4 separate regions of the Homo sapiens genome follow, and all the other regions are linked to region 1. The links come from fine-mapping of genetic effects on gene expression. A gene starts in region 1. Each other region holds a variant in brackets. All regions are shown on one strand. Distances are from middle to middle.

What was found.
Region 2: its variant is fine-mapped to the expression of NECAB2 in whole blood (TOPMed, PIP above 0.99).
Region 3: its variant is fine-mapped to the expression of NECAB2 in whole blood (INTERVAL, PIP above 0.99).
Region 4: its variant is fine-mapped to the expression of NECAB2 in whole blood (TOPMed, PIP above 0.99).

Annotation. Positions count from the first base shown.
Region 1 is chr16:83,964,844-83,970,695 of GRCh38, reverse strand. NECAB2 (N-terminal EF-hand calcium binding protein 2) reads right to left here and starts at 2,452. Exons shown (of 13, transcript NM_019065.3): 1 at 1,847-2,452. The coding sequence starts at 2,047. OSGIN1 (oxidative stress induced growth inhibitor 1) reads right to left here. Exons shown (of 6, transcript NM_182981.3): 6 at 4,364-5,634. The coding sequence ends at 4,689. RefSeq lists a silencer at 2,387-2,576.
Region 2 is chr16:84,027,079-84,032,930 of GRCh38, reverse strand. SLC38A8 (solute carrier family 38 member 8) reads left to right here. Exons shown (of 11, transcript NM_001080442.3): 5 at 963-1,064; 6 at 3,380-3,437. Among named protein-coding and RNA genes, the nearest start is that of SLC38A8, 13 kb to the left of the region's middle. RefSeq lists an enhancer at 5,306-5,807. The variant C/T (reference allele first, on the strand shown) is at 2,821.
Region 3 is chr16:84,067,862-84,071,861 of GRCh38, reverse strand. MBTPS1 (membrane bound transcription factor peptidase, site 1) reads left to right here. Exons shown (of 23, transcript NM_003791.4): 13 at 1,086-1,274; 14 at 1,824-1,996; 15 at 3,408-3,523. Among named protein-coding and RNA genes, the nearest start is that of SLC38A8, 27 kb to the right of the region's middle. The variant T/C (reference allele first, on the strand shown) is at 2,165.
Region 4 is chr16:83,991,427-83,997,278 of GRCh38, reverse strand. It overlaps NECAB2 (N-terminal EF-hand calcium binding protein 2), which reads right to left. Exons shown (of 13, transcript NM_019065.3): 7 at 2,859-2,977; 8 at 2,591-2,670; 9 at 10-63. Among named protein-coding and RNA genes, the nearest start is that of NECAB2, 26 kb to the right of the region's middle. RefSeq lists a silencer at 1,234-1,293. The variant C/A (reference allele first, on the strand shown) is at 3,049.

The DNA.
Region 1 (5,852 bases):
TACACATTTCCCGACACCAGGGAGGGCTGCTGGGGCCAGGTCAGCCATGGAGGAGGAGGAGGTAATACTCACTCTGACCCTTCCACCCTCTGTCCTCGCCTTGGGGTAAAGGACAGATGCCCTCGCCCCCCATCCCTCCAGGCAACGAGAAAGGGGGCACCCTTGGTCATTTCTAGGCACCTGGGCGGTGAGACTGAAGCACAGCTATGGGAGGGCCTCTCAAACATCACCCCTCCTCCTGGCTGAACCTCAGATCCCCAAGCCCTCCTCAAAGATCCAGCCTGGGCACCCCGCAGCCCCGTTCCTGACTGGGCAAGGCTCCTCAAAACTGGGGTCCCTATCTGGGTGTCCCAGATCCCCCTTGAGGCCAGGCACCAGGTAGGTGCCGGCTCTGGGCAGGAATGCTGAACACATGAGTGACATGGCAGGGCTGACACCTGGTAATGTCAGCCAGCTCCAGGAGTCTGCATGAGCACCTCCCGCCCCACCCCCCGCTCATCACTCCTTTTGGCAGGTGAGGAGATGGAACCTCAGAGCCCCCACCCTGACTGGGCAGGGCTTCCATGCAGGGCAGCTTGGGGCTGCAGGGCTCTGCCCAGGACTTTCAGTGGGAGCTCTGCGGGGGTCCTGAGGAGGGGATGGTTTGGCTGCATGGGTGTGTCTCTGGCTGTGTGTGCGTGCGTAAGCGAGTGCGTGAGTGTGTGAATGTGTGCCTGCGAGTGTGGCACTCTAGAGCTCCCCCTGCTCTGGCCGGCCCTCCCAGCCCAGACCCCGGCCAAGGGTTCCAGGAGCAGGGAAGAGGAGAGAGGAAGGGAGGGAATCCCCCGACTCACAGGGATCCGCGATACACGCGTGTGCACATTCACACACACCCACCACTCTCCCAGAAATCCACCACACAGGCAGAGGCAGCCCCCAGCCCCACCCCAGCAGGACCCTCGCTGAAACACGCAGTCAACATCCCCAGAAGCCTCCTCCACCTCCTCCTAGCACTCTCTGCTGGGAGAAGTCCTCCTCCTCCGAGCCGCCCCCTGAAGATTCCTCCCTCCCGGGTGGGGCGGGTGGGAGGGTGAGGTGGGCTTCCCAGAGATGGGTGATTTGGGTCCCAGGGGAGTTAGGAGGGGTGAGGGGTGAGTCTGGTCCATGAAGAGGACCCAGCTCTCTGTAGGGTAGAGGGGTGTGGGGAAGGGAACAGAGGACTTGGAATGGAAGGGGGCGGGGTGGGGAAGACCAGAGGGGTACCAGCTCAGGGCTGATGGGCGATGGCTCTGGCTCAATGGAAAGGAGACGAGAAGACAGAAGGTGGGGAGGGGGCTTCACTTTTAAAGTGGCAGTAGCTGGGGCAAAGGGTCTTTGAGCGTGAGATGAACGGGGGCTCAGGGTCTAGGGCGAAGAGAGGTGGGCTAGAGGTAGGGGTTGTTAGGGGTCTCAGAAAAGTATCGCTCCGGACAGGATCCGGGATGGAGAGGAGGAGGCGGCTGGACGCGGCGAGGGGCTCCGGTCCCGCGGGGTAAAGGGTGGGGGTTTGGCTTGGACAAAACTAGGGGGACAGTGGCCGGGTCCGGGGGCTCACGGCTCCCCACTGTGGGCAGGCAGGGACTCCGAGAAGCGCCGGTGGAGGGGCGGAGGAGGGGGGTCTCCCGGTCCAGGGAGAGGACTGGGCTGGAGACCGGCCTGGACGTGGCGGGGCTGGGGGCTCCCGCTCCGGCACGCGGAGGGGCCGGGGGTCTCCTGCCCGGGTAGGGAGGGCCTCGCGGGTCGCGGCGTCGGGGTCCGCCCGAGGGGCGGAGGGGGCTCCGGGTCCCAGCGGAGGCCACGGCGGGGGTCCCGGCCGGCGCGTACTCACGTCCAGGATGACGGCGGTGCCCCCGCGCGGCGAGGCTGGGCCGGGGTCCGCGGGGGCGGCGGGGGCCAGCGACTCCCGGGGCTCGCCCATCCTGGCGCCCACCCAGCGCAGCAGCCCGCCCAGCGCCCGGCCCTGCTGCGGCGGCTCCCGGAGCAGCCTGTGCGCGCCGGCCCTGCACAGGCGCGCCGCCCGCTCGCACATCGCGCCGCGCCCGCCGCCGCCGCCCGGAAGCCCGCCGACCCCCGCCCAGCTGCGGCCCGCCCCCGCGCGACCCCCTCCCCGCGCTGCCCGCGCCGCCCCGCCCTCTCTCCCGCTGCCCCCGCGGCCGCGGACACCGCGGGGACTGGCCGGCGCCGGGGGGCGGGCCGGCCGGACCCCGAGCCACGTGCCCGCTCCCCGCCGCCCCCACCCCCGCCGGCCGGGCGCGGGGCCTGAGGACTGCCCGCCGGGGCGAGGGGCGCGGGCGCAGCCACAGAGGGGGCTACCCGGAGGGGAGGGGTATGTGGGGCCTGGGGGCGGGGCGGCGCCCCTGGGGCCTGCTCCCCAAAAGTCTCCTGCTCTCCCCGCTTCTAAAGTCCCCCCTCCCACTCGCGGCGCGCAGCAGAGGCCGAAGCGCGGGTGTCCAGCGAGCCCGGAGCGCCCTCTGCCGGCTCCAGCCCCGGGGAGCGGCGCCCACGCCCCGCGGCCCCGTCACGCCCGCGGGCGCCCATCCTTAACTCCCGCGGGCGTGCACGCCCCCTCAGGCCGCCCCCTTGGTTACAAAACGCCCAGAACCAGTCTTCACCCCAGAACATCTTTCCTTCATACTCCATCCACCCATCCATCTATCCACCCACCCACCTGTCCGTCCATCCATCCATCCATCCATCCACCTGCCTACCCGTCCATCAATCCATCTATACATCCATCCACCCATCCTCCCATCCATCCATCCGGCCGGCCGACTGTCCGTCCATCCATCCACCCACCCTCCCAACCATTCATCCATCCATCCATCCACCCACCCAGCATCCTCCCATCCATCCATCCATTCACCCACCCACTCATCCTCCCTCCCTGGCATCCATCCATCCACCCTCCATCCATCCATCCATCCACCCTCCCATCCATCCATCCATCCATCCATCCATCCATCCATCCATCCGTCCATCCATCTGCCCGCCCGCCCATCTGTCTGTCCATCCACCCACCCACCCTCCCATCTATCCATCTATCCACCCCCCTACCCTCTCATCCATCCATCCATCCACCCACCTACACACCCTCCCATCCATCCACCCACCATCCTTCCATCCATCCATCTATCCTCCCTCCCTCCCATCCATCCATCCATCCTCCCTCCCATCCATCCACCCACCCACCCACCCCCCTCCCTCCCATCCATCCATCCATCCATCCACCCACCCACCATCCTCCCATCCATCCAACCATCCTCTCATCTATCCATCTGTCCACCCACCCACCCATCCTCCCATCCATCCATCCACCCATCCATTTAAAAGATGAATTAAGGAGAACCCACTAGGTGCCAGGCAGGTGCCCAACCACGGAGTTCCAGCAATGGGCAAAACAGATGGTGTACTTGGTCTCCCAGAGCTCCTGGAGCTTACATCCAAGTGGGCAGAGCCAAACACTGAAATGATTCCACAAACAAATGAACAATTAAAACTGAACTGCTGGAAGGGTGTGGTGGCTCATGCCTGTGATACCAACACTTTGGGGAGCCAAAGAGGGCGGATCACTTGAGGTCAGGAGTTCAAGACCAGCCTGGCCAACATGGTGAAACCCCGTCTCTATTAAAAATACAATAACTAGCTGGGCGAGGTGGCAGTCACCTGTAATCCCAGCTACTTGGGAGGCTGAGACAGGAGAATCATTTCAACCCAGAAGCAGAGGTTGTAGTGAACCAAGCGCCACAGCACTCCAGCCTGGGTGACAAAATGAGACTCTGTCTCAAAAAAAAGAAAAAAAAACTGCACTGCTATGAAAAGGTAGCACCTTAGACCATGAAAGGAGTATTTGCTGTGACGGCAGTGGAGGGGTTTGTGTCAGAAGAGGCTTCCTAGAGGAAGTGATTCTTATGCTGAGACATCCCAAGGAAAAGGAGTTAAAGAAAGGCGGGAAACTGTCCTGGGCTGGGGACTCTCTGTGCAAAGGCCTTGGGGCAGGCAGAGACCTGGCCAGCAGGAGGGACTGAAAGGAGGCCGCATGGCAGAACAGAGAGGAGGGAGGCCTGGGACAGGCTGCGGAGGGGGCGGGGCTGCAGCGCCCTCCTGGACATCACTGCCTGCACACACCCGCCACTCCCACCCCCAGACTCTAGTACAGCTGCCCGCTCAACTGCCCCCACACTTGGGGCACCATCCTTTGTACCCCAAGGCCCCAGCCATGGACCTCATCCAGGACCACATGCCCCAGGACTCCTCCCACAATCCCCTTTCCTCCCTTCCCCCCAGCCCAGTGCAGGGTTCCGGGAACGCAGCTCCCTCCGAGCACAGAGTCCTCAGACGCATGAGAGCAGGTGGGCACTGGCTTTATTTGGGACCTGCTTCTGGAAGGCGCAGGGCTGCAGGTCTCCTGGCTGGGTGCTCAGCTGGTCACACCAGCAGCTTTCCCCACAAATCCCAGGTCTAGGCCAACCCTGGCCTGCGGCCGCTGTTACCACCTCAGACACTGGTCTAAGTCCAGGGCAGCCTGGGATCCCTACTCCTCTTGACCCCAAAGGCCAGCAACGTGGGCTGACACCCCTCCCCGGGGCATCTTTGGACGGGTCCTGCATCCAGCAGGGATGTGGTCATCTCTGTCCTCTCAGGGCCTGGGAGCCAGCGGGTCTGGCCGAGTGTTAGGGTGGCTTCCTGGTCTCCTTCCTTAGCAGGGAGCTGGCCACAGCCAAGGCGCCCCCCTGCACAAACCTCACGAAGTTGTCCCCGGCCAGCGGCCCCATGGCGTACAGGCCCTCCTGGCGGGTGCTCTGGTAGGTGAAGGGGTCCACGTCAATGGGGTTCCTCTTGGCGCTCAGCGGCTGGTCAGGATCCACTGCAAAGTCAGCCCCTGCCCCAGGCAGGAAGGAGAGGTCGGGGTGGGAGCCGATGAGGACCAGCACCAGGGAGACCCCAAACACCTTCTCGACACCCTCGAGGTCCTGGAACACGGCCTGGCAGTCTTCCTTGAAGCACAGCAGCTGGTGCCTGGGGAGGCTGCGGTAACCCTCATAGGGGCTGGGCGACAGGATGGACTGCTCCCGCATCATCTGGTGCACCTTGTGGTACTCGGGGTACAGCATCTTGGGCAGCTGGTTGAACACCAGGCCAGGGTCGTCCACGGCCCGGCGGAAGGCATGGATCACCGGGATGTTGTAGTGGCGGGCGTAGAGGACCGCGTCGGCCGCTGACAGCCCCGCGCCAATGATGAGGACAGGGTCTGAGGCCGGGGTCACCGCACCCACCCTTGTGGCGGCCTCCAGGGCAGACAGCTCATGGTGGATGAAGGGCAGGGCCTCCCCGGGGATGCCCAGCCGGGCCGGGCTGTCGAACGTGCCTGTGGCGAGGACCACGTTGCGGGCCCACAGCGAGAAGGGCTGCTGGGCCTGGTTCCTGGTCAGGAAGCCGCTCACCTGGAAGAGGGGGCTGGAGTCCTGGGCCCCACAGCTGCTGGGATCGGGGGTCCCCCACTCCACGGCTGTGACTACAGCACCGGACACAAAGTTATGCCCCAGACCCTTCTTGACCACGTAGTCCCTGTAGTAGTGGGCGATGTCCCCGGCAGTGGCCCGGCTGTTGCGAAGACCTCTGTTGGGGAGGATGCAGGACGCCAGAGTCAGACACTGTTAGGGGTTGGGGGGCTGGGTGGGACGGGAGATGTCCAGGGCAGTGTCAGGCCCTGGAGCTGGACTAGGCTGTAGCTGTAGGACTAGGCCAGGTAATTCAACCTCTCTAAGCCTCAGTCTCCTCTTCTGTAAAATGGAGCTAACAAGGGTGCCTCCCTCAGGAGAGGTGGTGTAGGGTGG
Region 2 (5,852 bases), 62 kb before region 1:
CGTACCCACACCCACCCATGCTCACCCACCCACACATGCACCCCCATCCCCGCATGTCCCCGTGCCCATGCACGCACATGTGTGCACACACACAGAGGTTGTTTTTTTGTGGCTAAGGGTCTGTATACTTAGGAAGAAATAAAGCTTGGAAACAGTATCCATCTCCCTCTGCTGCCTGCCTTTTCCCTGTTGTGTATGAACAATAGACATTGTATAGAAACAGCAGGCAGCAAACCCGAGCCTCCCTCAGGTCTCTGCCCTGCAAGGCTCTCGTGCCACTCAGACCAAGCCAGGGGGCGGCTTGTCCCCTCTCAAGTGTGAGCGAGCCTGCTGGCGTCCTGCCTTAGGCATCAGGCTGAGTGGCTGATTAGCTTTTGCTGGTGGGAAGGAAACACTATTACAGCTGCCATCCCGAAGGGCGCCGGGTGCCATTAAGAATTCTACACATTTGGGCTGGGCGTCACACCTGTAATTCCAGCACTTTGGGAGGCCAAGGCAGGCAGATCACGAGGTCAGCAGTTCAAAACCAGCCTGACCAACACGGTGAAACCCTGTCTCTACTAAAAGTACAAAAATTAGCGAGGCGTGGGGGCGGACACCTGTAATCCCAGCTATTCGGGAGGCTGAGGCAGGAGAATTGCTTGAACCCGGGAGGCAGAGTTTGCAGTGAGCCAAGATTGCGCCACTGCACTCCAGCCTGGGCAACAGAGCGAGACTCCGTCTCAAAAAACAACAACAACAACAAAACAACAACAACAAAACTCTACATCTGACCCCTTGACCCCAAAGCAGCCCTGCCCCACATGCCCCCTGTACAGATGAGGATGGTGAGGCAGAGGTGGACAGCTTGGCCAGCACCTCATTGTCAAGGGCGGAGCTGGGATTCAGATCCCACTACTGTCCCCGTGCATCAACCGCACATGTCACCCACTGCGCAGCCCCTCACACGGTCACTGTGTTAGCATCCTAGGCACTCTGGCTGCCTGTTACCTGGCCCTGGTCATCACCGTGCAGTACTACCTCTGGCCCCAGGGCCTCGTGCGTGAGTCCCATCCTTCACTGAGGTAAGTCTGAGGGAACAGCTTCCGGCAGCCTCGGCGGGGAGGCACGGCAGGGGAGTCTGTGAGGGGAGTCTTGGAGGAGGAGCCTCTCGTGGCTCACTGCAGAGCCTGGGCTCCTTCCTTCCAGTTCTTTCCGTCTCTGATGCGGTGAAGGCAAGGGAGGGCCACTCTCCTTCTGCTGCAGGGACCTGGCCGTGGCTAGCGATGACCGGGACAGGCCAAGGGACGCAGAACCGCCAAAGGCTGCGGCGGCCTAGGGGTCATAGGTTATTGCAGACTTGTCCCCACAGTGTGGAGGTACAGAATCTGGCAGCCATCCAGCTGCATGTACCGGGGCAGGGGAACAGTGAGGAGGCCGGTGTGGCCAAGCCAGCCGGAACAAGGGCAGAGAGCATGGGCGGGGATGTCGTACAGGGATTCAGAGCCACGGCGAGGAGTTTGGTTTTGCTCTGGATGAGTTGGGAGACTTGGCAGTGTTTTGAGTACAGCAGGGATGTGACAGGATTTGTTTTTAGAAAGGGTCACTCTAGGTAGGGTGTGGTGGCTCATAGTTGTGATCCCAGCACTTTGGGAGGCTGAGGCAGGTGGATCACTTGAGGTCAGGAGTTCAAAACCAACCTTGCCAACATGGTGAAACCCTGTCTCTACATAAAAATATAAAATTCAGCCAGGTGTGATGGTGGGCATCTGTAATCCCAGCTATTCAGGAGGCTGAGGCAGGAGAATTGCTTGAACCGGGTGGCAGAGGTTGCAGTGAGCCGAGATGATACCACTGCACTCCAGCCTGGGCAACAGAGCAAGACTCTGTCTCAAAAAAGAAAAAAATTAATAAAAAGGCTCACCCTTTTTATTCTGTTCTGTGGTCCTTGGGAGCCAGGGGCAGCAACAGAGACCAAGTGGGAGGCCTCTGCCTAGATCCCGGGTCCCAGACCTGGTGGCTTCAGAGGAGGCAATGAGGAATAGTCAGACTGGATATGCTTGAGATCGGATTTCCCAGTGGCAGGGCTGGCTCGTGGGTGTGCGACCCCTACAGTCACCCAGGCCCCATGCTCAGTGTACCCTTCTGATGTCACTGTCTTAAAATCCTTAATCCTTGTCCAACAAGGGTCCCCGCATATTCCTCCTGCACCTGGCCCTGTGAATTCTGTGGTCAGTGCTGCTGGTGGGTTGGAAGGTGAGTAAGAGAGAGAAGAAAGTCAAGGTAACTTGGAGCTCTCAGCTTGAACAGTGGGAAGGATGGAGATGCTGTTTCCTGGATTAGAGAGGACTGAGCAGGGCGGGTCCCTGGGAGCAGCTCAGGCTGGAACAGTCAAGGTAGAGCCGACCTGGAGACATCTAAGAGGGAAGTCAAGCAGCTGGGCAGGTCTGTGTGTCTGAAGTTCAGAGAGAGAGGTCCGGGCTGGCAGGAGAAACGTGGCTGACGTTGGCCCAGACATGGCATTGAAGGCTGTGAGTGCTGAGATCTGTACACTGAGCCGGTGGTACTCTAGCACAGGCAGGTCGAGGGGATGAGGAGGCCCTGGTAAAAACAGGAGGTGATGAGTTAGGATATGTGAGTGTCCGAGGGCTGTTGTGACAAGTGATCAAAGTGTGGTCAGGCCATGCTCCCTCCGAAGACTCCAGGGGCAGATCTTTCCTGTCTCTTCCTGCTTCTGGGGGCCGCGGCGATCTGTGTTCCTTGGCTGATAGACGGATCACTGGGTCTTGGCCTTCATCCTCACACCATGTTCTCTCTGTCTGTTTTCCCTTCCAATAAGGG[C/T]AGCAGGCATTGGATTCAGGCTCACCCTAATCCACCATGACTTCATCTTACTTTCAGTAATTACACCTGCAAAGCCTGTCAAAGGAAGCTGTGAACCAGGCGGGGATCCCAAGAGGCTGGACCTGGAGGTTCTCCCCACGCAGACCTCTGTCCTCTTAGGTGGCTTGGACAGAGCTCAAACCATCCTTGTGCTATTTGGGATCACTGGGTGGATGCTCTGGGTGCCCCCGCCCCTGCCAATTACCAAACCGCACTGGGAGCCAGCAGCCTTCAAGAGGGAAGTTGGGAGTTCCTACTGCGGTTTTCCTGCCCAAATTCTGCCCACATGTAAAATGTCATGTTACCAAATGTCAGCAAAGACGTATTTAGAAAGTGCAGCATTTAGCCAGCATCCTTTTCCATTTCCAAAAGCCCGGTCACGGACACAGTCATTAAAAATACATCTTGCAGCCATGCTCTGTTACATTTTCCCAGCATCCTTTAAAATTCACCATTGCAGCCGCAGGTTGTTCCGGGTGTGACCCTTCTTTAATAAACTCCTGTTCTTGTCTGTTTACAGCCCTGCCTCCTGGACCTCTGTGTTCAGTGTCTTCCCCACCATCTGCTTCGGGTTTCAGGTAATTTTAGCATCTGTGTTGCAGCCTGTGGCGTTTGCAGAGGCTGTGGGTGACTCTCTGCTCCCTTGGGAAACCTTGGTTTCTCTGTCAGGGAGGCGTCTGAGGACTTCTCCTAGGATACAGTGGGCTCTGTGCCGCCCACCTGTGGTTCCCAGGCTGTCATTCCAGACCATGAGGATGGGTTGGTGTCTGGGCTCAGGGAAGTGGGAATTGCCTTGAACTTGGGAATCCAGCCCCCACTGATGGCCAAAAGCAGCACCATGTTTTTTAGGTTTCGCGTAGAGTGTGGGGACCCGGGACCTGTCCCTTCCTCTGCAGAACCCCCACAGGACTGCAGTCAGACCTGAGGCCTGGAGGCCTAAGCTGCCCACCTAACTCTGGCAGGACAGTTTTACCCAGGTGGACTCTGCCCAGGGCCTTGGGCAGGAAAGATCCTGCCTCCTGAGGGGTACAGGGTAGAGGAGCTGGAAGGTGTACAGGGAGCTGATTGGAGAGGGGAAAGGGGCAGAAATACAGAATTTTTAATAGAATGTCATGGGAGGGAGGACGGGGCTATATGTGTAGAATCCTGGCAGAGGGGCAGAGTCAGAGGTGTCCGCTCAAGGTGGTGGGGTTTGAAAGGGATCTTGAAGGATGTATGGGCAGCAGCCAGGTGACTGGAAGCGCACCCCAGGTAGAGAGGACAGCACAGGTGGGATAGCATAGGTGGGTCACCGATGTGAGCGGGCCCCAGGCACAGCTGGAGAGAGACCTGCAGAGGGCTCTGTGGCACAGCGCTGGGGGGAAGGTGGCGGGGCAGGGGGGGCAGGGGAGGTGGCGGGCCTGGGCTCAGTCCTCTGCTTCTGGGCTGTCATGGGTTCCCGCAGCCCTCCTAGCAGGTGGAAGCAGACACTGCTCTTCCATTTCTTTCTTTTTTTTTTTTTCTTTTTTTGAGTTGGAGTCTCATTCTTATTGCCCAGGCTGGAGTGTAGTGGATCTCAGCTCACTGCACTGCACCTCCTGGGTTCAAGCCTCCTGAGTAGCTGGGACTACAGGCGTGCACCACCATGCCTGGCTAATTTTTTTTGGTATTTTTAGTACAGAGGGAGTTTCACTATGTTGGCCAGGCTGGTCTTGAACTCCTGACGTCAAGCGATCTGCCCTCCTCGGCCTCCCACAGTGCTAGGATTATAGGCGTGAGCCACCGTGCCTGGCCACGCTGCTTATTTTCGGGAAGATTTGCCTCGATGTCCTAAAAACAACCACCTATCCACTGCCTACCACCAGCACCAACAAAACCATTCCAAAGTAAAATCAAGTCCACAGGGAGATGTGTCCAGGGTTTACCACCGGATCTCAGCTTTGTAGCCATTGAGCTCGTCTCTTCCCTTGACCATCAGTGAGCTCTGCTTCTGTTCTTCATCTTGCCTTTTCTTTGAGAACCCTTTTTAGGAAAAAAAAAAAAAAAATCTTGAAACATTTCCATTTCTCTTCCTCGTAATCAGTCGGCGTGCTGCTTCAGGGCCTCAGCAAGCCACTTCTGTGGATTTCTCACATTGCTTCCTGCACGCCCAATATTTTGAAAGATCTGAAGAGCTGATTTTGCTGTCAACTGTTTGTCTGGACTGAGTTTAAGAACCTCTCTCTGTGCCCAAGCGCCATATGGTGCAGCAGACCTACGCCGGGGCCGCCTCCCCGATGCTTGCAAGGGGTGCCCCTCACCTTTGCCTCCAGCCCTCACCGGATTCTCCTAGCAACGAGGCCTGGGCTGCGTTTCCAGGGACACGGGATGCCGAGATGAAGAGCTGGGAAGGATAGGAACTGAAGGAGTGGGAGTAGGGGCTCAGGCTAGAGGTGGGGGCTGCCAGGATCTGAAGCGGGGGAGAATAAATGTAACTGAAGGTGCTGGGAAAAGGGGGTAAGGCTGGAGAGGGCTGCAGGAAAGGGACGGTCACATACTGTCATCAGGAACTCTGACCTGACTCAAACACAGCGTCCCCGCCCAAACACATTTGGCAATGGGGCACCCCCGCCCCAGGCCTGTCCAGTCAGTGAGAGGGGCCTCAGGAGCAGAGGGGTTGTGTCCACTCCCAGCCAATGCGGCTACACCAGGACTTCTAGTGTGTGTTTGTTTGTTTGTTTGTTTGTTTGTTTTAATTTTGCTTTTGTGGCAGACTTGCTCTGTCGCCCAGGCTGGAGTGCAGTGGTGTGATCTTGGCTCACTGCAGCCTCCGCCTCCTGGGTTCAAGCGATTCTCCTGCCTCAGCCTCTTGAGTAGCTGGGATTACAGGCGCCTGTCACCACGTCCAGCTAATTTTTGTATTTTTAGTAGAGACGAGGTTTCAACACGTTGGCCAGGCTGGTCTCGATCTCTTAACCTTTTGATCTGCCCACCTCAGCCTCCCAAAGTGCTGGGATTACAGGCGTGAGCCACTG
Region 3 (4,000 bases), 100 kb before region 1:
ATCGCCCTGTCATAGAGAAATTCACCATTGCTGTGTGTTCAGCAAAATGTTCCTCCAGGTGATGCTCTTTTCCCTTTAATATTACTTACTGTGGTGGGGATTTTTTTCCTTCTGTAAAAGTTTTACATTTCATGTAGTTGAATTTTTATGTTTTGTGACTTTTATTGTTTTGCAGATGGAAACATCATTCCAGAGAGATAATAAAATTTCCATTTTATTTTTCTACTAATTTTTATGTATATGATTGTTAAATATTTAATTGTTTCATCTGTGTTAATTTGATGTGTTACAAGAGATGGGCGAAAGTTTTTCACTTGGGAACCAGTGGCTCCAAGAGCATTCTTTAAAAATCCCTTTTCTTCCTCATTATTTGGGACACCGTATCCTACAGATATTTTTCTTTTTCATACTTTTTTCTTAACCCACTGGCTTACTTGGGAAGTAAGTTCTGGCTGTGTGGATTGTGGAGGGAAATGAGTAATTTAGATTCGTCTGAAATACCGGTTAGTTGCAAGCTCTCATTGACGTCTCTTCCAGATGGCCTCTGCTCACGCTTCCCTTTCTGCTTTTCTCCCACCTGGAGGGTAGAAGGGTGGTCATCTCGCAGCTGAGCCAGTCCTCCCTCCGGCCACCTCTTTCCAGCTTCAGAATGTGACTCGGGACAGCTGGTGTCCCTGTCATGTTACTGCTTTCAATTAATGGGATTTTTTTAAAGCATACAACTAATTGGGAAATAACCTTAAATCTGAGAGTTTTCATCTATATAAGTTCTCTTAGTCAGATGAAGTTTTTCATCAAAGAACTTTTGACAAAAGTTCCTGTTTTATAATAGAAAAAAAATGTCTCCATAAAATTGGAAGCTGTCAGAAATAGTGGTTTCTAGACTTTTCTAGTGATACGTCCGAGGCAGTCCATAGGCTACTTTGGTTGTAGTTACTTAGTATCTGTGTATAAATTTTATTTTTCCCTATTTAGTGAAGTATTTCTCGGAACCAGTTTTGGTAAGAATTGAGTTTTTCTGGTTTCCACGTGTTTTCTCCTGGAGCTTTTCACTTTAGCCTTTGTCTGATTTCTTTTTCCTGCAGCCTGACTGGCAGCCCTATTTGCCACAGAACGGAGACAACATTGAAGTTGCCTTCTCCTACTCCTCGGTCTTATGGCCTTGGTCGGGCTACCTGGCCATCTCCATTTCTGTGACCAAGAAAGCGGCTTCCTGGGAAGGCATTGCTCAGGGCCATGTCATGATCACTGTGGCTTCCCCAGCAGAGACAGAGGTAGGGATATGCGGGAAAGTGGCTTGTTTTCTTAGCTGTTTGACATCACCTTTCAGGGAGGGACAGGCCAAATGCCTGGGGTCTCCATTGGAAGTACAGTTGACAGATAGGCTTATCCTCGATGGCCACAATTGATGGTTCCAGGGCCTCCGGAGCAGCTGGAGTTTGAAGAAGTAGCTCAGTCAGTGAGTGCTAGGGCTTGCCGTTCTGTGGCCACACAACAGCAGAGAAGACTGTTTTCTACCAGATTTCAAGCTCAAAAGGAGTGCACCAAAAATATACATTCTCTAAAAGGAAATGTAGGGTTAATCCTATGAGGCTCTAGTAGTTTTTATTGATAGAATATGCCTTAAATTTTAACTGTTAAACTCTTTAAGTGTTTGAATGGACTTAGTTATGATACATGAATCTTTCATCAGACATTTGTTATTGGAAATTCTTGTGTTCAAATTATTTAGGTTAAGTTGATAAATAGAAATGATGTTTTCAAACCTGAAAGTTTCTTTCTGCACAATGAGGGCGTTTCAAGTTTCTTTTCTTTTTTTTTAGTCAAAAAATGGTGCAGAACAGACTTCAACAGTAAAGCTCCCCATTAAGGTGAAGATAATTCCTACTCCCCCGCGAAGCAAGAGAGTTCTCTGGGATCAGTACCACAACCTCCGCTATCCACCTGGCTATTTCCCCAGGGATAATTTAAGGATGAAGAATGACCCTTTAGACTGGTAAGCACCTCACAGGATGCACTTCACCTCCCCAGCCTCCGTGGTGGGAGGAGGCACCACTGTTCCCGCAACTCTTGGAAAGATGTTGCTCAGCTTCTCGTGGAGCCTGGACTCTGATGACGCTGAGATGTTCAGGCTTTTGCCATGCACTTAGGGCAGCCTGACTTC[T/C]CTTTTGAAACTTTCACAAGTATGATTATGCAGTAAAAAGCTTGAAGTTCTCTTTTCCTTCCTTCTCCCATTGCGCCAGTCAGCAAAGCTGTCAGTCTTACCCTCAAACTGCATCCTGGATCCTTCCATCTCTGGCCTTCTCCCTGCTCCCACCCTAGTCCATGCCATTGTCATCTCTTGCCTGGACCACATCAGCAGCTCCTGAGTGCCACTGCTGTTGCTGTTGTTGCCCTAAATTCCACTCCTCTTCTGGCAACCTTGGTAATCTTAAAACAAATTCTAACACAGTTTGCCTCAAGCTCTCCAGTGACTGCCTATTCTGACTTCCTCACCCGGCCAAGCCCCCTGGTGTGACCCATGCAGCCCTTCAGAAGCTGGCACTGCTTCCCCCGCAGTCCCCATAGCCGCTCTCCCTGTGCCTGTTCCCTGCAGGGCAGCTGGGCTGACTTTCTCTTGGTGCATTAGCCAAGCTCATTTCTGCTTTTATGTTTGGACTACGTTTGAACTCCATGCTGAAAGTAGGGGAAGGGGAAGCATTGAAAGATGTGACCAGGATAGTTACAGAGTCAGACTTGCCTTTTAAAATAAGATGTCTCTGGCAGCCAGATTGGAGGGGCTCAGACCAGAGACGGGTAGACAGGAAGTGGTGGGAAGTTCATAGACCAAGGCAAGCCCGTTGGCCTGCAGGAGAGGACCTGGAGTCTGTGCTGCTGGGAGGTGAGAATGAGGTGACCCCTAGAGGGTGTATACAGTGTCCCATAGGAAAGTGAGCTCATTTGGGAGGGACGGGGATGGAAAGTTGACCAGTGGCAGTGATATCAGTTAGCTGTGCCGCTGTCTTAGCACCGTGGCCCTGCGTGGCTTGTTCCAGCGTCCCTGCACTCCCGCGGCTATTTGCTAAGCTCTTCTGTCAGACACAGATGGTTGCCAGCAATTTACTTGAACGCGACTGCTACAGTGATGGTCCAGGACACATTAAACATGTCTTTGGCCATTTCTTCTGGTCATTTTGTCTCTTTCATGCACCTGCCAGGCACATGGTTTCTTCTTATCAGCCATTTCCGTGTGTCCAGACCAGAGCACACAGGTCTCCTAAGCTGATGCCTGTGCCAGTGGGCCAGCCATCCAGGCCTTCTCTGTGGGCCATGGCATGGTGCTCTTGCAGAGCCGGCCCTGTGGCCAGATATGCCTTTATTGCCAGTAAAGATCGATCATTTTAATGCTGTGGCCTATTGTTTTTCAGGAATGGTGATCACATCCACACCAATTTCAGGGATATGTACCAGCATCTGAGAAGCATGGGCTACTTTGTAGAGGTCCTCGGGGCCCCCTTCACGTGTTTTGATGCCAGTCAGTATGGTAAGTGGCACTGCTGTGCTAGCCAGATGGTCTTTCCGCCCACTTTGGATGTTTGTTAAATGTCTGAGGAGTGAATCCCAGTTTTCAGTGATAGCTACCAAGGGAGTATGCGCCGTGGGCCCCACAGCTGGGTGAGCCTGGGGCGAGGCTCTGAAACAGGTGGTGGCGGTGTGACATTCAGCTGAAATACAAGACAGGCTGATTGGAGACAGGGACATTCGTACTCTTTTTTCTTTAAGTTAAAAGCAGCTCTGCTATATATTTTGCTCCTTCTCAAGTGAATGAAAATCTTTATCCTGAGCACCACAAGTGAAATCAGATCACAGTTAGTCGCTGTGTATTGCTGGATCCTGGTCCTCTACTTTTTAGTCCCTTTTAAAGTGGTACAGGGTGGCACAAACCAGACTGTTAGGTGTCAGTAACCTGAGACATGTACCTGGTGACACTGTTTCTGCCGTGGTGGTGTCCTGTCATTCA
Region 4 (5,852 bases), 27 kb before region 1:
GGGCCTCACCATGTTGGTGCCATCTTCATCTGACAGGCGCTGCTGCAGGTCGAACCACAGTGCCTGAAACAATCCAGCACACAGTGATGCTAGACCCAGAGCCCCACTCCGCCCCGGGGAGCCAGGAGCTCTGGGATCCCTGGGGCTGTTGGGAGCTCCCAAGGACCCGGCCCTGTTGCACAGGGCTGGGAGACCAACGCTAGGAAGTGGCAGAGACTCCCTCTGGCCTACAGGGGGCCTAGAACATGTTGCTGGGGTGAGGATGGCTTGGGAGAGGCAGCAAGGGGGACTCCAGAGGCCTGAGTCCAAGATGCTGGGGTTTGCCACTATGATGAGCAACAGCCCTTAGATTCCCTGTAACTTATAATTCACCCCAAATCATAACCCCCAGCACCTCAGGGATCTAATGGGGTGAACTGTTCTCTCTGGTCTTCCCCAGACTCTAAGCTAGATGGTTTACAAATACACAATCTTCCAGACTCCCCAGGGAAGGTGCTGCCCCACTGTAAGTTTCGGTCTCCAGGAACCACATCTGCTCTGTTCGCCCACGACTGGTGCCCACACAGGGCTGAGCCCCCACAGAAGATCAACAGTCACTATGTCACGGCAGAGAACCCCGGCTCTGAAGGCACGAAAGCCATGTAAGTGTCAGAGCGTGGGTCTGAACCCAGTGTGTCTACCTGACGCACAGGCTCATGCTGCTGCTTCCTTCAGCTTGGGCACCCCACTAACCACCTCTGTGGCTATCTCTGTCCATCCTCCATGAGGACAGACCATCTACGGGAGTCACACAGGGCAGCCACAGGTAAAGCACGCCAGCTAATAAGGAAAACAGCAGCAGGTGGATGAGTCTGTGTAGTCACCACCGTGACGTTCTAAATGTTTGAGCAAGGGACCTTGCACGCTCATTTTGCACTGGGCTCTGTAGTAGCTGATCCTGGCAAGGGTACTGCCTTCTGGGGGCACACAGCATGAACACGCCTTGGTAAGTGGTGAAGGTGTGCCTGGCAGGAACAAGTCTGTTTCCATGGTTTTACAAGCATACGTGAGGGGTCCTGGGGCTGGAAAAGCCATAGGAGGATGAGGAGAGGCACTGTGGCCCCTGTATCTGCCCCATTCTTCTCCCAGCCAGGGGCCCCTAGAGCCTCCATCCTTCCAGCCCAGAGGCAGCTCCGGTTGGCCGGTGAAGGGCGGGGCCTGAAGCCAGGCCCGGATTGGCCCCTGCTGACCGCCCGGGCCAGTTAGAGGCTGGGGAGGAGGACCTGGTCCCACCCCGTCTCCAGGACGCCCAGGTACTCCGTGGTTACCAGCCAGCCTGGTTGTTAGGGCGACGGTGCTCTAAAAATAAGCTTCAGAGTCTCCCTCCCGAGGCGCCCGCTGAGTTGTTATGACAACCGGGCCACGGGGTCCCCTCCGAGCCGCTCCCGCAGCTGGCTTCAGGAAGGGGGTAACTCCACCTCAGCCTCATCCCTGCAGGAGGGGAAGTTTGAGCTTCCTCCCTCGGACTTCATTCCACGTCAGCCTCTGTCTCCCTCCATGCGGGGAGCCCCTTGTTCCTGCCCCCATGAATGCCTGAGAACCCCCAAACTAAAAGTAGCAATACCCTTTACAAAGGGTGTAAAAAAAATACACAAAAGTAGGAGAAACATAAAACCACCTCAATCCCAGGGTTCTGAGAGCTCAGTTACCTTGGCTTATGTGGGTATACGGGTGTGCTGTGTGCATGTGGATAGGTTTGGGTAACAGAATGCCTCATAATAATTGCTAACATTGCTAATATTAAATGCAAGCTACAGCACCGGGCCCTGTGCTAAACCGGAGACATCATTTTGGTTCATCCTAACGACACCCCTATGAGGGAGGGGTCCCATGCTCCAGGTTATTTTCTTGATTATCAGAGGAGGAATCTAAGCCTCAGAGAGGACAAGTCCCTGGCCCAGGGTCACACAGCTATGAAGTGGCACAACCAGAATTCTGACTGATACCTGAGCCCATCTGTCTGTAGGCCCTAAGACAAACTTTTCTTTCCACCAAATGGTCATATTGTGAGCACTCTATCCCGAGTCACGAAACATTATCTGAAAATGTTTTCTGTAAGGGCTGTGCCATTTTCTATCACCTGTGGACGTCCCATATCACACTTAATACATTTGCTACTGCTGGTCACTTCCTTCCTTGTTTTGAAACTCTCTCGAATCATCACGTCTCTCTTTCATCCTGGTGCTGCCTTTCGGCCAATATCTGCTCCAGCCACTTCAGAGCAAAGTCTCCTTGAAGCTAGGGCCTTGCAACACGGGACCCTGCTGACCACCCTCTGCTCCTGGAGCTGCTCCTGCTGCCTGCAGGCCCGCCTGACCCCCCAACACTCTCTCTTCCCAGGCGCCCCTCCTTGGGCCTGAACAACACGAGCATCCCCCGGGGTTTGATCCTTAGCTTCGTCCTCGGCAGCTCCACGCCCCACCTGGGGGATGTCTTTTTCATGGTTCCCTGGCCCCTCTGCAGCCCAGACTTTTGTCCTGAACTCCAGGCTTAACTCTGCACTCCCTCAGGGGTTGGAAGGAGTAGACGCCGTGGTCAGGCCAGGGCTTACTTTGCTCTCCAGCCTCCCAATCAGCTCTGCCAAGCGGCTGATCTGGGCTTCCAGACCCTCTTCCTTTGCATCCTCCGTGGCTGCGGTAGAGAAAGAGACACACAGACTTCAGTGGTGGGCAGGACGAGGGCTTCGGGGGGAAGCTGGAAACATCCAGCCCCTCCAGGGGCATCAAACTTGCTCATCTCCCCAGTCCCTGTCAGAGGACTCTCAGAACTCCTCGGGACCCCCAGCTGGTACCCCCACCAGGGCCCCCGCTTTCTCTCACCAGATGGAAGGGTCTTGCCTTGTTCCATAGCCATGAGCTTGTGGTTGGGGGCAGAGGCGGGAGTGGGGCTTCCACACCAGGTCTGTGCCGCGCTGTGGCTGGGTTTGATGTGGTTCTGTCTGCAGTTTGGATGGGAACACACACAGACCATGGCGGTGGCTTCAGGGCCCTTACCACTTCCAGCATCTTC[C/A]ACAGGCATTTATTACGCAAGACAGTGGACTCACACATGCACAGAACTTGCATCATGGCCTTTGTTTTGACAGAGGAGGAAATGAGGTTCTTAAAGCAGGTGACTCAGCCAGGGCCACGCAGCTAGCTGGGCAGAGCTGGGATTCGAATTCAGCTCCATTCTAGGACCCCACGGCCTAGGCCTTTTCCCCAAGAGATTCAGTTCCAGAGTGAGGCTGAGCCAGGGACCCACCCCCACTCTAACAGCTCGAAGCTTTCGGGCACGTGTAGAGCCCAAGCTGTGGAGTGACCAAGTCCCCCTCCCTCCCTCATGATAGGCCCATTTAATGTTTGGTGCCCTCTGGGGTGGGGGACCTGGTTTCAAGACCCCCCTCCAACACATACACATAAAAGCGAGACCTAAAGAGACACTGACAGTCGGGATGTAACAGGACAGAAACTGTGATCCTGACCTGGGCCTGGCCCCATCTCCCGGCCCTGGACACCCCTCTCCTGTGCATACTCATGTGCATACACACCCCTGCGTGCCCTGACAGGCACAGCTAGCCACAGGCAGAGGCAGACACACACACACACACACACACACACACACACACACACACACACACACAGCTCACCTTGCACTGTGTCCAGCACATAGTAGGGACTCAAAAATGCTCAATGAATGACCAAATCCTCCCATGCAAAAGGATGCTGAAAAGCTCCTGGCAGACATACAGAAACACAGACACTCCCCCAGAAGACACACAGAGTGCCCTGTGCACGGCCCCAACACCCGCTTGGTCTCTGTGCATCGCGGTCTTGGTGCATTCTGGAATTTGTCTCTTGTGAACCTTGAACACTCCGCCAGGCTCTCCCCCTTGCGGAGGGAGCAAACTCGACTCCCGCCTTGGGAGGGGAGAGGCTGGCAGAGTCTTTATGGTGTCAATCATGGCTTCTCTATAAACCAGCAGGAAATTAAATGTATCCCTCAGACCATGACGGGTTGCTCAGGGCTCCCGGGTGGTGGGGTCTGAGCCAGTAGCCTGTGCTAGAGGTGACATCCTGGGAGACTGTCCTGGGGCTGGGAAACAGGATAGTCCTCAGGGACCCACAGCCTAGAGCCAAACTAGCTGAGATTTGGGGAAGTTCGAGGGAGGGGCATGTGTGGAACAGAGGTATCACGACAAGCTGCCCCGTCTGACAACATCCCCAAGTAAGGTCCCCACCATGGGGGCAGGTGGGTGTAACTGCTGACGCGTGATGGAGCTGACCCAGTGTGGGAAGTCTGCCCTGAAAACTGCGCAGCCATACTATCTGTTCTGCGGCAGGAGAAAAACAGCAAGTTTTTCATCAAGATAGTAACAGGAAAACCCAGGAAATCTAAGTGTCAGCTTTTTTCACAGCGATGGCTGCTAATTCTGGGGCACCCAAGAATCACAAGACTGACCACATGTGCAGAGTTCTGGGCTCCAGTCCAGGGATTCTAGCCAGTGAGTATGGCCAGGAGCCCAGGAATGTGTATTTTAATTTTCCCAGGTGATTCAGCGCAAATGCTCAGATCAAACTCATTTGGGAAACAGTGTCTCAGAGTTACCTTCACAATCATGTCTGATCAGGACCAGCTCTTCAACTACGAAGAAACACACGATCAAACCCCAGTCCCCCAGCAAACCAATATCCTGGTCCTGAGGTACCTCTCTGCCTGGAAAATTAAGGGCTCAATCGAGCTTGGGTGCCGACACCTGGCTGTTTCCCTCATCTGTTTGCATTTTCTCTTTTTCTTCTGTGTCAAGCACATCAGCTGTTCTGGGAAGAACTGAGCAAAGAAGGGTTTTTCTCAATTTGAAACAGCAAATGGAGGTGGGCGGGGGGACGGGTGCTCGTGTTCCCCGGGAGATGGGACTGCTGAGCCACGAGAATGTCGCTCCTCTCTAAATACCAGGTCACACCCCTAACACAGCAGCCACCACCTAGGATGGGACCCCAGATGCATTCCCATGGTTCCAAGCACACAAACAAGGCCTAACACAAGACCAGAAAGAAACACTCCTCTTTCACGTCTCTTTCAGTCCTCCTGAGAAACTCTCAACTTGCTACTACTGTCTTCAACACCTCTCTGATTTCCCCCCAGTCTCTCTTTTTAACAGAGAGGTGGCAAGCCTCAGGATTCAAGCTGGATCGTAAACAATGACAGGTGCTTATTTTTACAGTTACTTCACTTACGGCATGTGATGCCGAGAGTGCAGTTATAACCATATGCCATTTCCTAAACTGCTTTCTAATTTTCAAAAGTGGGCTGGGGTGTGGTGGCTCCTGCCTGTAATCCCAGCCCTTTGGAAGACTGAGACAGCAGGATTGCTGAGACCAGGAGTTTGAGAACAGCCTGGCCAACATGGCGAGACCCCGTCTCTACAAAAAAAAAAAAAAAAAAAATAGCTGGGTGTGGGTGGGACTACATGCCTGTAGTCCCAGCTCCTTGGGAGGCTGAGGTGGGAGAATTGCTTGAACCTGAGTTGGAGATTGCAGTGAGCCACAATGGTGCCACTGTACTCCAGCCTGGGGGACACAGCAAGATTCTGTGTCAATAAATAAAATAAGGCCGGGCTCCATGGCTCAAGCCTGCAATCCCAGCACCTGGAGGCTGAGGCGGGTGGATCACCCTAAAGACCAGCCTGGCCAACATGGTGAAACCCCATCTCTACTAAAAATACAAAAATTAGCTGGGTGTGCTGGTGGGCATCTGTAATCCCAGCTACTAGGGAGGCTGAGGCAGGAGAATCGCTTGAACCTGGGAGGCGGACGTTGCAGTGAGCTGAGATCTCG